2 separate regions of the Homo sapiens genome follow, and region 1 is linked to region 2. Evidence: fine-mapped expression QTL. A gene starts in region 2. The other region holds a variant in brackets. All regions are shown on one strand. Distances are between the middles of the regions.

The links.
Region 1: its variant is fine-mapped to the expression of ZNF135 in whole blood (INTERVAL, PIP above 0.99).

The regions. Positions count from the first base shown.
Region 1 is chr19:58,206,300-58,214,625 of GRCh38, reverse strand. ZNF274 (zinc finger protein 274) reads right to left here. Exons shown (of 8, transcript NM_133502.3): 5 at 7,424-7,906; 6 at 4,553-4,665; 7 at 2,940-3,066; 8 at 1,064-2,465. The coding sequence ends at 1,483. Among named protein-coding and RNA genes, the nearest start is that of ZNF544, 18 kb to the left of the region's middle. The variant C/T (reference allele first, on the strand shown) is at 5,074.
Region 2 is chr19:58,054,268-58,062,593 of GRCh38, reverse strand. It overlaps ZNF135 (zinc finger protein 135), which reads right to left and starts at 3,312. Exons shown (of 5, transcript NM_001289401.2): 1 at 3,284-3,312; 2 at 2,559-2,625; 3 at 888-1,014. The coding sequence starts at 2,591. It overlaps ZSCAN1 (zinc finger and SCAN domain containing 1), which reads right to left. Exons shown (of 6, transcript NM_182572.4): 6 at 7,963-8,326.

The sequences.
Region 1 (8,326 bases), 150 kb before region 2:
AGGAGGCTGTTTTTACCAACTAACGTCCCTGGGCAAGTTCTTCAACTGTGTATGTTCTCAAAGAAGCTAACATGTGCCATATTAAAGTGCTGAAATGACTAGAAGCAACATAGCAACCACAAGCCCTGTGCCCAATGTGTGAATGGCAATAGGGCTGCTGGTGTACCACCATCATTCTCCAGGCACATGGGCTCAAGGTATCTACTCTGGTCCTGTCTCCAAGGGTTTTTCACTTCTGCAGAGAAAGGAGGTACTCTCATCCTAGATGGCACGACTGCACCTCACCCTTGTTGGCAAGACCCAAGGGTTCTAAAGAGGCTATGCAGAGTAGCACTCAACCAGTGTCTTGAACCTAAGTATTTTTGATCCAGAGTTTTATGTTAAATGTTACATGGAACTCAAGAGCAAAGGTGGAGCCTAGAACAAGGAATGGAGCGGGTCATATACTGTGGGCTATGTGACCTGGAGAAAGAATGTGAACTGTGGGCAAGTACATGCTCTAGTATTGCCAGTGTCTTTTTGCTTAACTTAGTGATGGGCTCCTGGCCAGAGCAGTTGCCTTCCTTGTGATAGTCTCTCAGGAAAAATGGAAACACAAACCAAATGAAGCTAGGCATGGTGGTGCATGCCTATAGTCCCAGCTACTTGAAAGACTGAGCCAGGAGGATCTTTGAGCCCAGGTGATCCTTTGAGCCCAGGTGTTCGAGGCTACAGTAAGCTATGATTCTACCTCTGCACTCAAACCTGGGTGACAGGATGAGATTCTGTGCGAAAAATAACAAAAGAAACATGAATATTCCCAGGAAGCCCCACACTTGCCTGGGGTTTCCAGCCCTTTGGGTTTAAATTTTCCTTACCTCCACCTAACCATATCATGACAACCCCCTAAGGAGCAGAAAGATTCAGTCATCCCAACTCACATAGTATCTTGTGCCCAAGGTGCTGCAGCCTTGCACAGAATCTTCTAGAACTATCTGATGATCTCCTTCCTTGTGTTTTAATGTTGCTTAAATATTAATCATTACTATAGAGATATTTAAGCAGGCAGGAAATACACAGGTTCTACACAGACATAGATCAATAGTTTATTTATCCACATTATCTTTTAATCCTTAATTCATACACATAAATACTGTGGTACTGTGGATGTAATATCAGTGCAGATTATTAATTACCTGGCTTTTTAAAGTTATTATATAACATTTTCAGATTTTATTAATCTCACTTTTAATGACTAAATGAGTGAACAAACAATATCAAGTGAATGGGAAATCTTTTTTCCAAATGATGTTAATAACTCCTCACTCATTTTCTTATTTATTCATTATGTGCTGGGCAGTCTCCTCAGTTGTCCTTTGGTTTTGGGAATGTCCTCACTCAATACTTCCCTTTCACATTCAGTCCTGATTCACAAGCAGGCCTGTGCATGTTATATTGCAGGGTCAAGCTGAAAAGGCAAGGTTTCTTCAACTGGCTTGAGAGCTATGAGGTAGGCTGTTTCTTCTTTCGCTTTGTCCTATTGTGGGTTCTCTGGTGCCCAATAAGGTGTGAGCTCTGGGTGAAGGCCTTTCCACATTTGTTGCATGCATATGGGCGCTCCCCGGTGTGAGTCCTCTGATGTCTGATGAGGTGGGAGCTCTGGCGGAAGGCTTTTCCACAGTCCTGACACTTGTAGGGCTTAGCGCCAGTGTGAGTCCTCAGGTGCTGGGAGATGGCTGAGCGATCATTGAAGGTCCTCCCACACTCCTGACATTCAAATGGTCTCTCTCCAGAATGAACTCTCTGATGCTGTGTGAGGGAAGAGCTCTGAACAAATCCTTTCCCACAGTCTTGACACACATAGGGCCTCTCTCCGGTATGGATTTTCTTATGCACAGAAAAGTATCTTGGGTTCCGGAATATTTTACCACATTCACTGCATCGGCAAACTTGGCTCCCCTTGTGAATTCTTATAAACGTAATCTGTTTAGTACTCCGACTGAAGGTTTTCCTACAACCATTGCCTTCCTTGGCCTTTTGCCTTTCACAGCTCTTCTGATGAATTTTTACACGTGAATTATGTTTCATACTTTTAACTTGTGAGTCACGTTTGCGCAATCGTTTTCTAGGAGGAATTTTGTGGAGCAAAACTTGGTTTGTGTCAAGAGCGCCACTGTTTGCCTGGGACTCAGGGTTGTCAATTTTCTGGAGCGAAACTTGGTTTGTGTCAAGAGCACCACTGTTTGCCTGGGACTCACGGTTGTCAAAGTGCTTCTTCTGAGGAAGGTCTTTTTCCTGAGCAGACTCCATCTGCTTCAACACTGTGTCTTGGACTTCCTGGACCCCACCCTGCAAGGTATCTTCTAATGTAGAGGACAAGGCACAATCCCTTGAGGATTCTTGTACTTTCAGGCTGGGGGCTGGTTCTTCCTCAGGAATGTCAGAATTTGGAGCTAACTCTTTATTTTCCAGTGTAGTCTCCCACCCTGAAAAAAATAAACAAAAGATGTGGATCCCATAGAGAGATGTGCTGGGATGGGTCTGAGAGCATGAAATGCATAATTAAGTTCAAAAGTCAGGATTTTTTTTTTCTCCCAAATAGAGTCATGCAACCTGGAGAGAGACTGAAAAGCAATGAAGCGGCAGGGAGGGGAGCACTGACCTTGGTGAACAAGGGACAGGAAGGGCAGGGAGTGTCCTCCGAGCTCTTCGAGTTCCTGTTCTCTCATACTCCCTCAGGAGATAGATAGCAAATCACTCCTTCACCGGACCTAAGGCTGCTTCTGGCCACCCAGTGACCTCACCCCTCTAGGTCTACAGTTCCACTTACAGGCCCTGGATGCAGCAAGGGCCCCTTGAGGGAATGCCCAGTGTGGAGTCTAGAGAAGGTGAACACCCCTGACTTGGGGCTCCTGTGGCCTACCAGCCCTGAGGTGGGTGAAGAGGGGGCACAGCCTTACCCACAGAGACCAGGTGCCCAAAGGTCTCCAGCATCACATCGCGGTACTCGGTCCTCTGTGTCGGGCCCAGCAGCCCCCACTCCTCCCGGCTGAAGTCCACAGCCACATCCTGGAAGGTCACTGGCTCCTGTAACATCACATATGTGTCTATGCTCAGCAAGAGGGTCAGAGGGTTGTCAATGAGGGCAGAAGAAAGGCCAGCTGGGAGGTTCTGACAGAGCTCACGGTGCTAGGGACTCTCCTGCTTTGGGGATTTGCTCAGAGACACCAACCCAGGGCCCACAAGAGTTCTACTGGGTCCAAACCAGGGTCTGGGTCTCAGGCTGGGAGGCAGAGCCCTTGCTTCATAAAGAGCTCCAAGTGCAACAAGCAAACAACTCCATCCTAACCACGGCTCTATCCAGCTTGCCCATTGCTGAAATCTTCCCACTGCAGAGGGTTCTCCATCTATTAATACTGTCTTCCCACTTGGTGGAAATGACAACCAAGCCCCTGCCTTTGTCGACAGGGCTGACCTGGGGGAGGGCAGTCACCCTGGCACAGCCATGACTGGTCCTTTCTGGGGAACTGACCAGGACTTTGGGAAGAAGAGGTACCCCCAACGCTGCTTTGCCAGGATCTGAGGCATTTTGCTTACATGGGGCAGAATCTGCCTAAGAAGAAAGGGGAGTGGCCACGCGCAGTGGCTCACACCTATAATCCCAGCACATTGGGAGGCCAAGGCGGGTGGATCACCTGAGGTCAGGAGTTCGAGACCAGCCTGGCCAACATGGTGAAACCCCGTCTCTATTAAAAATACCAAAAATTAGCCGGGTGTAGTGGCAGCTGTCTGTAATCCCAGCTACTCAGGAGGCTGAGACAGGAGAATCACTTGAACCTGGGAGGCAGAGGTTGCAGTGAGCTGAGATCGCGCCATTGCACTCCAGCCTGGGCAACAAGAGTGAAACTCCATCTCAAAAAAAAAGAAGAAGAAAGGGGAGAAAGCAGAGCCATGAAACAGGTTGGCCAGAGATTCTTCCCATCACCTGGGAGCACCTGGATGCAGCCTTGCCTGAAGCCTACCAGAGAATACATGAGAGCCAATAAATTGACTTCTACGCTTGAGCCAGTATAAGCCATTTGCAGTGCAAACAGGTCTGACCAATGACACATACATACCACTACCCCAGTGGTCAGCGCATCAGGACCAATCTTTTTCACCCACACCCCAGCTCTGGGTTATTCTGAAGCAAATCCCAGATACCAAAGATAAATACCTAAGTATGCATTTCTGAAGGTTGAGGGCTCTCTTGTTCTGACCTGGATACAGATGTGCCTGCCTGTGGTAGTTCCACCTCTCAAGTCTCTGTAAACACTTAGTCCCTTCCCTCTTGCCTCCTGCTTTCTCAGCTCCCGGGTCACCATGCGTTGTCTCCAGTGATGCCACAGTGGCTGGAGGGCAGGGCTGCTCTTCATACTCAGATTGCTTCAGCACAGACCTAAGAGCTCAGAATCTCAGAATGTCCCAGCCTGTGGGAGGTCTTAGGAAAGCCCAGGGCAGAGTGGATGCCTCAGGGGTGGGCCTGCCTCACAGGAGATGCTGTGACCAAAACAGGGTGATACTCCCCGCTTACCTCAGGGAGCACTGTCACTGGGCAGATGGCTGCATCCTCCTGCTTCTCCTCCTGCTGGGCAGTGACCTCGAGGCAGCAGGTGGTGCCCTCGGCAGGTTGTCCTGCAGGAAGTACTGGGAGGAGACACCAGCCAGAGGAGGTCAGCAGGTGTGGGGACCCTTAGGCAGGGCAAGGGTGGCCTCTCTGCAACCCATGGGGCCACCGCACCCCTGCATCGTACTGTGGCTCCATGACAGCCTCTGCTCCTGTCCTCCCTTCCCACCAGCTCTGCTCCCCTCACAGCACGTGCCCGAGTGCCCACACCTGGATGGGCCCGGGATGGCTCACCCTCCAAGGGTCACAGGGCACCAGTGTCCTCACTGCTGAGACTCTGGTCCCACTCCTTCCCTTTCCGGGGGCTGCTGAGGGCCCCAGCCCCTCCTGTGAGGCAGCTGACTGACGCCCCCTCCTTAGAGTCAAAGCCCCTGTTTCCGGCCTCCAAGCCCTGCACCCTGCCTATTTGGGCACCTCTTCCTTCTTCC[C/T]TCTCTCCTCCCACCTCATGGAAGGTGAGACTTTCCCTGGACCCATGAAATGCAGCCATCTTGAGGTGAACGTCACCAAGTCTCCTCCACCTAAGAAAACAACAGCTCCACCTGGCCCAAGGGCCCCTGTAACCACGGCTCCTTCATTCTAACCTTCCTCACATGACCCCAAATGGTCCACAGGCTTCCACAATGCTAATCTACCCCCACCATCAAGGTGGGCCACAAGATGACTTAGGCTGGCACACTGGACCATCCCTTTCTCTTGGCCACAGTGATTAGATCTGGGATGAACACAGCCTATAGCCAGATGATTGGAGCCAACAAGGCCTTAGTTGGAACATTTGGGAAAGAGAAATCCCATGCAGGGAGACAGCCTGCCCATGATGAAGCCAGTGGAGGGCAGAAGAGGTAAGAATGAGGGACAGGACAAGTCTGGAGGACACTATTGGAGCTCCTGGGTCCAGCCCTGCCTGATGCTCGAGCACCCTGGAACTTTTCCAATAAATTCTCCTTCTCCCTTGAGCCATTCTGTGCAAGGCTTTGCAGCAGTCACACTCAAGCGTCCCAACTAACACACTGATCACATAATGTGAGATTCTCAGGGTTCTCTGGAAAGCCTCTTCCCATTGTCTTCTGTGGCACTAATTTATTTTATTCACCCCTGAGGTTAAACACAGGGTGAATTCACTGACTTTCACCTCATTAACCCCACAACTGTCTCCTTGGCACCTAACTAACTAGTTTCCTATTGCTGTTATAGTGAATTGCCACAATGCCAGCGGCTCAGATTAATGCAAATGTATTACCTTATGGTTCTGGAGATGAGAAGTCTGGTTTGTGCCTCACTGGGCTAAAATGAAGGTGTCAGCATGGCTATGTTCCTTTTGGAGGCTCCAAGGGAGAATCCATTCCTTGCCTTTTCCAGCTTCTAGAGGCTGCCCCAAACATTTGGCTTATGGCTTCTTCCTCTATCAGCTGCTCCTATCATTACATCTCCTCTGACCCTCCAGCCTCCCTCTCCTAAGGGCCCCTGTGGTTATGTTAGATCCACTCAAATAATCCAGTGCATCTCTCCCTCTCAAGATCCTTAATTGTTTCTGCAAAGTCCCCTTTGTCATGTGAGGCAACTTATTCACAGGGTCCAGGAGTCAGGACATGGACACCTTTGGGGCAATTATTCTGCCAAGTACAGCACCCCAGACTTGGTGCATCTGACACAACTCATGCAAGTGCCTGCCCTGCTGCCTCGGATACCCGATCTCCAGGATGCCCTGGCCTCTTAGAATCCCACCATCCCCCTGCAGGATACCTTCCCCTTTCCTGCAATCACAAACATCAACCAGTCAATCATTCGTTCACATCAGAAACATCTTCTGGGCACCCGTGAAATGTGGAAAATGGAGGTGAGCAATGCAGAAGCATGCACGCTCTGTGAAACTCAGCCTGATGAAGAAACCAAGTCTTGCAGTCTTATTCCCAAATACACACTCCACACGTGTAGTCTCTCCCCAGTCAGACATCACCATCACTCCTATCCAAGACACCACCCCATCAGAGGGCATGGCAATAGCTGCGGGTAGCCTGTGTCCAGCCTCGCCCCCATCCTCTGTCCACCATCCACCACACATGCAGCCTGGTAAATCTCTAAAGGTCAAATCCAGTGGTGCCACCAGTTTCTGGAACTCAGGGATCGAGCCCTACTGTTTTAGAAGAACATTTTGCTTTGCTTTAGGACTAAAGTCCCCACTGGCAGTGCCAGCTCCAACCTCTGCTCCCTTCCATCACAAACATAACCGATTTTTCTGAGTTTTGCATTTACTGTGATCCCTTCCATCTTGGCCCTTACAGGCAGTGCTCCCCTCTGCATGGCACATCTTTCCTGCCCCCTTTCTTTACCCTGGCCAAGTTCCACTCCACACCAGGTGTCAGCTGCAGACCTTCATAAGCCTCACCATCACCTCGAGCTCCTCATAGTCCCAGCATTTTTCTATGCATTCTCATTTGTCAAATCCCTGTCTCTCCTGCTACTGCGGGCTCTCTGAGCTCAGTATTCCCATCTATCTTATCAAGTGCTACAGGGCTTATGGTGCAGCAGGGATGCCAGAGGGATAAAAATGAAGCACTTCATCTGTGTGCTTCCATCAGAAGCCCACGAAGGGCTAAAGAATGCAAGGGTTTCAGTGGCTCTGACTCAGGAACACGTGGGCAACATGGATGTCCTTGGTCTGTATGGAGCGGACACAATCCTTCCCATGACCTTCCTAGGAAGCCTGGAGTTCTTATCTCCCCCACAGGGTACTCCAAGACACCCTCATTAAGCTGTCCCTCTACCCACCCTTCTACTTACCTTCCTCCTCAGACATCCAGGTCACACCCTCTACCAGGGCCACCACCTCTTGGCAGTTCTCTGGGTGCTGCGATTCCACCCATGTCCGGAGCTTCACAGGCAGTGCACCTAGGAACTGCTCCAGCACCAGCAGCTCCAGGATCTGCTCCTTGGAGCGTGCCTTAGGCTGTAGCCACTGGTGACACAGCTCTCGGAGCTGGTCCAGGGCCTCCCGGGGACCTGTCATGTCCTTATAACGGAACTGCCGGAACCTCTGGCGCGCGGCCTCAGGGTCACCTGGATGCTTGCCCTGCTGTTGGACCTGCTCACTGGGGGCATCTGCACTCAGGCTTCCATCTTCAGCATATAGGGCCTGGATCTGGGCATTCCGGGGACCAGCCACCTCCTGGTTCAGTGTGAGGACCTCAACAACCTCAATGTTCATTAGGGGACTCTCAGCAGGAAGAGGATCCAATTTAGGGTCCAGCTGGAGCTCAGGATACTCTGTAAGTCAAAAGCAGAGCAAGACAAATGAGAACAAGCACATGAAAAGATGCTCAACGCCATTATTCACTAGGGAAATGCAAGTCAAAACCACAGTGGAATATGCTTCAAACCCACTAGCATGGCTGTTACCAAAGACAGATGATAACAGGAGAGGATGTGGAAAAACTAGAATGCTCACACACTGTTGGTGGGAACATAAAATGCTGTACCACTCTGCAAAACAGGTTGGTAAATCCTCAGAAGTTAAACACATAGTTATCCATGACCCAGACATTCCCCCCAAGTATATATAGCTAAGAAAATTGAAAGCATATGTCCCCAAAAACTTCTATAAGAATGTTCACCAAAGTGTTATCCATAATAGCCAACAAGTACAAATAACCCATTGTCTATCAACTGAGGGATGTATAAGCAAAT
Region 2 (8,326 bases):
CGGTGAAACCCCGTCTCTACTAAATATACAAAAAAAAAAAAAAATTAGCCAGGCGTGGTGGTGGGCACCTGTAGTCCCAGCTACTCAGGAAGATGAGGCAGGAGAATGGTGTGAACCCGGGAGGCAGAGCTTGCAGTGAGCCGAGATCGCACCACTGCACTCCAGCCCGGGTGACACAGCGAGACTCTGTCTCAAAAATAAAAAATTTAAAAACAAATAAATAAATAAATAAATAAATAAGGTTCAAATGTTAGAATGTAATACCTAATCTGATAGTGTTGAGGTGGGGCCTTGGGGAAGTGATTAATTCATGAGGGCTCCACTCATGAATGGGATCAGTGCCCTTATAAAAGAAGCTTGAGATAACTCCCTTGCCCTTATGGCATGTCAGGACACAGGAAGAAAGTGCCATCAGTGAGGAGCAAGCCCTCACCAAACACTGAATTTGCTGACACCTTGATCTTAGGCTTCCCAGCCTCCAGAACCATGAGCAACAAATATCTATTGTTTAAAATTACCCAGTCTAAGGTATTTTAGCAGCCCTAACAGACTAAGACAGAAGTGCAGAGGGAGGTGTTGAAGAAGGAGGGGCTCCTAACAGCTCTACAGAACACCCTGGTCTACCCTGGGATTCTGTAGTCTTCAGACCCAGTATGTTTCCCTCACCTCATGTTTCTCTGCTTCTGTTGATTTCAGGTTGAGTCTGAGACTTGCTAATATTGGTCTTAATTGATATTTCCTACATTAAAACAGTCAGGTTCTTAAAGCCCAAGACATACAGCCCCAGGCATTTGCTTTTAAAGCTCAGTCCTATAAATATTTAACCTGGTAGAATCAGAATCCGTGTCAGGGACAGATCAACAGATAGGACATGGGTGTGGCCTTACCCACAGAGACCAGAAGCCTGAAGGTGTCCAGCATTACATCACGGTACAGGGTCCTCTGGGCAGGCTTCAGCTGCCCCCACTCCTCCTGGCTGAAGCCCACTACCACGTCCTCAAACGTCACTTGCTCCTGAAACATCACACGAGTGTCCTCAGCCAAGCCAACCCTGGCACTGGCTGCTGGTGGGGTAGCTGGTAAATGCCAGCCAGGCTGGGTCGGATGGAGTTCCCTTTGGTCTGGGGTTTTGGGTCAGGTTTTTCTGTGGGGCCTGGATGGGTGCCCTGCTGATGAGGTGGAGGATCTTAGAATCTAAGGCATCATGCCCGTTTCCAATAATTTGTCTCTTGAAATAAGAAATGGAGGGAGCCAGCAATAAAGGAGTGGACCAGCCCAGCATGGTGTCGCATGCCCGTGGTCCCAGCTGCTTAACAGGCTGAGGTGGGAGGATCACTTGAGCACGTAAGTTTGAAGCACAGTGAGCCATGATTGCATCACTGCACTTCAGCCTAGGGGATAAACAAAGTTATAAAGCTAGTAGCAGAAGTCTAAAGACTGAATCTGGGTGGTTTTTTTTTTCCCCCGAGACGGAGTCTCGCTTTGTCGCCCAGGCTAGAGTGCAGTGGCATGATCTTGGCTCACTGCAAGCTCCGCCTCCTGGGTTCACGCCATTCTCCTGCCTCAGCCTCTCGAGTAGCTGGGACTACAGGCGCCCGCCACCCCCCCGGCTAATTTTTTTTTGTATTTTTAGTAGAGACGGGGTTTCACCGTGTTCGCCAGGATGGTCTCGATCTCCTGACCTCGTGATCCGCCCACCTCGGCCTCCCAAAGTGCTGGGATTACAGGTGCGAGCCACCGCGCCCGGCCAAATCTGGGTTTGTTTTTTAATTTTTTAGAGACAGGGTTCCACTGTCATTCAGGCTGGAGTGCAGTGGCACATCATGGCTCACTGCAGCCTCCAACTCCTGGGCTCAAGCAATCCTCCCCCATAGCTGGGATTACAGCTACAAGCCATCGCACCAGTCCCCTTGTACGGGTTTTCTGACATTCCTACAGGAGGCTGGTTTCTTCTGGTGGCTTATGGGTGGGGTTAATGTCATCATAAAAAGGCGAGTTCCGCCCCCTTGGCCTCCATGACGTCTGAGGAAGCGGCACTCGATGCGCCATCTTGGAGCGCAGAGCATGCTAAGGCCTTCAACTTCAGACTGCAGAGCCGGGGCACCTACAATTTTCTGACATCACCCAGCCTCAGGTATGCAATGACGGCCGCACAAACATAAAGCCCACTCAGACAGGGACCCGTGCCCGCTGACCTCCAGCGCGGCGTGGGCGGTCCTTTCAGAGGCAGGCTGTGGTTGGGGAGCTTGGCGCGGACTTTAGGAGGCCGGGTGTGCAGGTAGAGGCCGGACACGAGTAGAGGCTAGATGTGCAAATAGAGGCCGGGCACGAGTAGAGGCCGGGCACCAGTAGAGGCCAGGTGCGCGAGTAGAGGCCAGTTGTGCGAGTAGAGGCCGGGCACGAGTAGGGGCCGGGCACGCAAGTAGGGGCCGGGCACAAGGAGGAGGCTGAGCGCGAGTAGGGACGGGGTGCAAAGAGGAGGCCGGGCGTGAGAAGGCCGCGCGCGAGGAGGCCGGGCACGAGGTGGAGGACACGCGCAAGGAGGCCGAGATTCTCACCGGGTCTGTGGAGACGCGCACCCCAGGGGTCATGCCCTGGCTTCTGGCAGGAACGGCTGGCCCTGCTCTGTGGGAAAGGGGAGGTGAGCAGCTGGGGCAGGCAGAGGCGGTGCTCAGGTCCCCAAGCCGGGGAACTGCGCCAGAGCCTGGGGAGCTCCGCGGAGAGCCGTCCAGGGCCCCGCGTACCCGTTTAAGCGCCTGCTGTGTGTGGGGCGGCCCTCCGCTCGGAGAAGGGCAGCCTAGGGTTTTCCCGCCTGTCTGAGGGAAGCTGAAGGCCTGGCGGGTGCGGACACATATCTGCTGCGCAGACTCTGAGCCTTAACGCTACAGTGACAAGGGCCGGGTGGTTGCGGTCCCCTGGCCCTGGGCACTATGCCTCAGTTTCTCTCTTCCATCAACAAAGGTGGCGGCCCAGTGCCCGGTGTGGGGCAGAGGTGGGGCCAGGGGCGGGGCGCGCGTTCCCTCAGGGGCCGTCGGAGCAGCTCCTGTCCAGCTGGGCGTTGGGCCCCGCCCTCCTCTCAGACTAGGGATGCCCCGCAAAGCCTGCCCCCGCCAGCCCCGAAACGGCCTTCCCCAGGCCCCGGGCAGCAAAACGGACTCCACACAGACGCGCGCTGCTGGAAACTCGCCCCGCCAGGGCCTCAGGAAGATCCCCGGACCCCCCGCACCCGGCCCGGCCCGGCCCGGCCTGGCCTCCCCTCCCCCTCCTCGCCGGCCTAGCTCACCCTCCTGACTGCGAGACAAAGGCCGCGGCACCGGCAGCCGACACTGCGCCGGCGCGAGCCTAACTCCATTTCCCAGAGAGCCGCGCGCGCATTTCCGGCCGCCCTCCCCCACCTCGCTCTCGCCCTTGGCGTTCGTGAGCTCTCAGTGCTGCTGGAGCTGGAGTGACTGGGCCTGGTGAAACAGGGCGCGCGGGGTGCCTGGGCATCAACGCGGGATAAGTGCCGCTTGGAACGCCGTGAGCTCCCGGCGCGACCACACGGGCTTTCGTGTTGGAAACTCTACCGTCAGTTTTACTGCTGCAAACAAAGCAATGATTTTTTCAAAACACATACTTTCAACCAAAACATTCACCAAGATCGCACACACGGGAGTCTTTGCATTTTCCACACTGAGGCAGCCATGGAGACTTCACACTGTATTTATTACATGGTTATAAGGAACATCACGTGCAAGACACTAACAATTATGACGACTTTGGACATTGCTAGGTAATTGTCAAAATTGTGCATTTGAACAGCAGCAAAATATTCAAAGCTGGTGTGCCCTCGCTGACACGAAATGAATTGTCATTTTCTGAACATTCACCAAAGCCTGCCAGGCGCTAGGCCTAGGTTCAGCAGCACACAATAGTGAAGCCCCCATTCAAGCGGGCTTCGTTTCACCAGCGTACGTCACACGTCCGTGGAGCAGCGAGACCAGAGGAGCTGGGAAAGCCAGGGCTGAGCCTTGTGCTTTTGCCCTTTTAAGGGAGGACAGATTAATTCCAATCAGCCTGGGCTTGGGAGCTGTATTTGAAGCAGAGGAAAAGTTTTAAGACGGGCATTTTTTTTTCTTTGACTGAAACAACTCTGAAAACAGCAGAGAACACAATACGAATTCTCGTACCACACACAGACACTTGCAAAGATTTGGCTGGTTAACACACAAGTTAAGACTTTAAATTTCATAAGCCCTAAAACAGTGGCAATTATGAAGAGATATAATGGCTCAAAATCATAATGCACTGATGTAAACAAAGCAAAGGCAAGCTTCTTGGCTTTTAAGGGCGTCCTGTACATTCCAAGTACTGTAAAGCCCCACATTTGTGACCGTCGCACTGAAAGCCAGCCTGCTTTTCACTCTACAGCAGTAAAGAGGCTTTCCATTATACATAAAATGCCGTTTTTCAGTTCTCGAACTCACAAACCCAAATGCCACAAAACATCTTTTTGTGTATTTTTTCTTTCACAAAATGTATACTCTTGCCCCCCACCCCCACCCCCAACCGTTTCCTTTTACTGGATCAAAAGGTATGAACACACAACTCATGGTGAAGTCTTTTTCCCAAGCGGTCTGATAGTCCTGGTGAGAAGCTGTCAGTGGTGCCACACTGAGCCTGCTCAGCCCTGATGGTGGCCAGGCGGCCCTGCCCAGCTCCCTCAAACTTGCCCCTCTGTTTCCTCCCTCAGACCTTCTGATCCTCTGTTTTTCTCAGCCAGGTTTCTAAACCGTACATGCTTTTGCAGGGGCGGGCTCTTTCTACAGGGGCAAGTGCTGCTTGGCTCCAGCCAAGTGGGGTCGTGCGGACTGGCAAGCCCAGCGTCCCAGGTCTGGATTTCTCTAAAGAACCCAGAGATCAGGATTTCTATGTGAAATCTCTTGATTTTTAAAAGCTGGTAGGGATTTCAAAGGCTTTAATAACACTCTACCAGTCAAATAAGATGAGCTGGAGGCTACTCCAGTGCCACCCTTGCTGTGGTCTGAACCTCCTGCTGTCTCTTGTAACCACTGGCTGGGCCCCTCTCAGCTCCTTCTTGGCTTCCTGTACGAATCTCCAAGCAGAGCATTGCTGGTTGCCTCTCTGTGGCCTGGAACAGGACCCCCCACCATGAGCAGGTGGGCTGCACATCAGTACAGCTTCCAAGCAATCCTGCAATCACAGCATGGATAGCAGAACTGTGTCATGCTGTATGTTAATGTTCAAAAAGTTAATCTGTTCAACACATACATTTAAAATATACTGTAACAGTTACAGCTCCCTGGACATATTTCTCCCTTTAAAAAAAAAATCTTTTTGACAGCTTCAAAACCTGGCAGTGTCCAGGCCTCCTCTGACCCAAGAGACCCTGGCTGCCAGGGAGAAAGGTGGCGTCTGAGACTCCGGTCTTCCAGAGCGTGAAGTGCCCAGGGCTGGGCTCACAGCTCCTGTGACAAGGGCTGGAGGACAGGAGACTGGGGCACATCGTGATGGGGGTGTTGGAGTCTTTGGGGGGTGCTGGCAGAGGAAGGCACAGGGCAAGGGAGGCGTGCTGAGGTGCTGGGGCTTCCACAGCTGGGGTGAACCCAAAGAGAAGAGAGGGGCTAGTGCTCTGTCTCACTGCAGCTCGGGCAGGGGCTTGGGACTGGGCAAGTTAGGTGAAGAACACCACGTGGTGGCTTTCGTGAGTTGCAGCAGCTGCCACAACTGGTCCAGCACCCTGGGCCAAGTCCTTGCTTCTGTCAGCCAAGGTGTAGCACGTGAGAGTGGCCCTCCAGGACCCTGGGCCACGTCCTTGCTTCTGTCAGCCAAGGTGGAGCACACAAGAGTGGCCCTCCAGGATCCTGGGCCACGTCCTTGCTTCCGTCAGCCAAGGTGGAGCACACAAGAGTGGCCCTCCAGGACCCTGGGCCACGTCCTTGCTTCTGTCAGCCAAGGTGGCGCACACAGGAGTGGCCCTCCAGGATCCTGGGCCACGTCCTTGCTTCCGTCAGCCAAGGTGGAGCGCATTGAGAGTGGCCCTCAAGGGGTGGCCCACCTCCCCTCAGAGGTCGAGGGAGGCTTCCCCGGCTGGAAACTGCAGCCCACAATGGTGTCCCGGTGTCTCCACAGGGACTTCCCCTCACTCATTGAGTCACTCATCCCTTCACTCTGTAGGACCTGTTGTATGCTGGGTGTGGTCAAGTATGGCAGTGGAGACTGTTCTAGGCACAGGAGGAGGCCAGGGTGAGAGGCAGTGTGGAGTCAGGTGGAGACACAGTGAGTTAAGGACACCAGCCTCCACCATCCCAGTGCTGGGGGCTGTGGAGGCAGCAGGGCCACAAAGGACACTATAGAGCTACCCTGCTGGGCTTTGTCTTTTCAGTGTCTGCATTTTAGAGGGACCCTGTTGGCTGCAGGATGGGGATGGGGCAGAGGGAACGGGCTGGAGGCAGAGTTTGCTTAGAGGCAGCTGCAGGCATTCAAGAAATGGGGAGAGAGCCTGGGGCTGATGGTGCAGAGGAGAAAAGAGAACTGAGAGGGATTGGGAGCTGGGTTCCCAGGGCAATCAAAAATCCTTGTGGGGCCTTGGAAGGTGGTGGTCCCTCTGAGGGGAGTGGGAACCCCAGAGGGGAGGCAGTTTGCGTTGTTTTCTTTGTTGTTGTTTTTTGTTTTTGCACAAGGGAAGATGAGTTATTTGGACAAACTCAATTGGAGAACTGAGGGACACCAGATGGATGTCTCTGGGGCCAGCCCAGGTAGGCTGGAGCCTGACTGATGCCTCGTGTTCAATGGCACCCACTTTCTTGTGCAACTCTGGCACCAACAAACTGAGCTGTGATTGTGCCTCCAGCAGGTGGAGACCGAGATGGAAACAGCATGGAATGAGCCCCTGGCTCCCAACAAGTGGGGGCACTCGGGAGAGCTATCTCTACACATCCCGTTGTCTGAGACGATCAATCTGCGCCTGAGAGAAGGCTCAGGGGGGCTTCCGAGAGTAATGGGCTGACTGCGGGGCCAAGACCCCACCCTCCATCCTGAGCTCTGTAGAAGAAGCTCCTCCTTTGCAGGATGAGAGAGAAGGTGCCAGGAGGGGAGCTGGAGCCCACCAGCAATTAAGGCATAGGATAGAGCCAGGAGCCCCCAGTGGGGACTGCAGGGAAAAGCTGGGGATGCCTGAGGGAGCCGGGAAGCAAGGTCCGGAGGCGCGGTTAGGGGGCGCTCCGAGAAGGCAAGCGTGAGAAGGCAAGCGCGGCAGCGAGGATGAAGTGAAGGCAGCGGTGGGTCCGTGGGACCTGCACAGCCCGAGAGGGCCATCGGGGACAGAGGCCGAGAGTGGGGGCAGCTTGGTTGAGAAGCAGCAGCAGGCGGATGTGACGTGGGTAAGTCCAAAGGCTTTTGATTTAGAAGGCGACTTGGAAAAATGTCTCTGCCTGTGCGGATTCACAGTCAGCCCAACACTGTGTTTCCAAGTGAAGTCGGGAGGAGAAAAAGAAAAAGGCAAAAACTTTTAAGGCTTTTGCTTGAAAGGGGACGAGTGTCCGACAACAATGAGTTGGGGACGGGTGAGAAGCCGAGTCCGAGGCTGGCTCCCCGCTGTGACGTCACCGCCTGCCCACACTCTGCTCCAGCCTAGCAGGAGAGGCGGGCCCACTCTTTGGAGACCATCTGATCCTTCCTGGCAGACCAGAAAGCCAGATTTTTATGGTTTAAACAAATGTTGGCATCTATCTAAAAAAAAAATCCTTCTGTAAGTCAAACAAAATACAGGCAGGTCAGTTTTGGTCAGGCCTAAAGACTGCGCCTGAAATCCTCAGAGACAGGAAGCAGATTCTGGTTGTCAGGGCGGGCAGGAATGGCGAAGGCGTGCTGAGGACTGTGGGCTCTCTTTCTGGGCAAGACGAAAACATCTTTGGAGCTAGAGAGTGCTGGTAGTTGCACAGTGTTGTGAATGTGCTTAATGCCACTGAACTGTTCATTTTTAATGACTGAAATGGTAAATTTTATGTTGCATGTACTTTACCCAAAAAAGGAAAAAAACAAAACCCTGTTTATCTGTTAGGTTCCAAGGGGGCTAAGCTGGCAGGAGGGCAGCCGGGGTCAGCTGTACCCTTCTCTGGAGTTGGAGCTGCCCAGGCCGGCTCCCACCCTCATGGCCTCAGGGATATCCACAGTGAAATGAAAACCCAGCGGCAGAAGCTGCCGCTGAGTCAGGTGCTAACAGGGAGACCTGGACAAGGCTTCTGAAAGATGGGACGCGAATGAAACTCCTCTTCAAGCCACTTGCAAAACTATAGTGCGCAGGACTGACCAGGCTGTGCTGTGG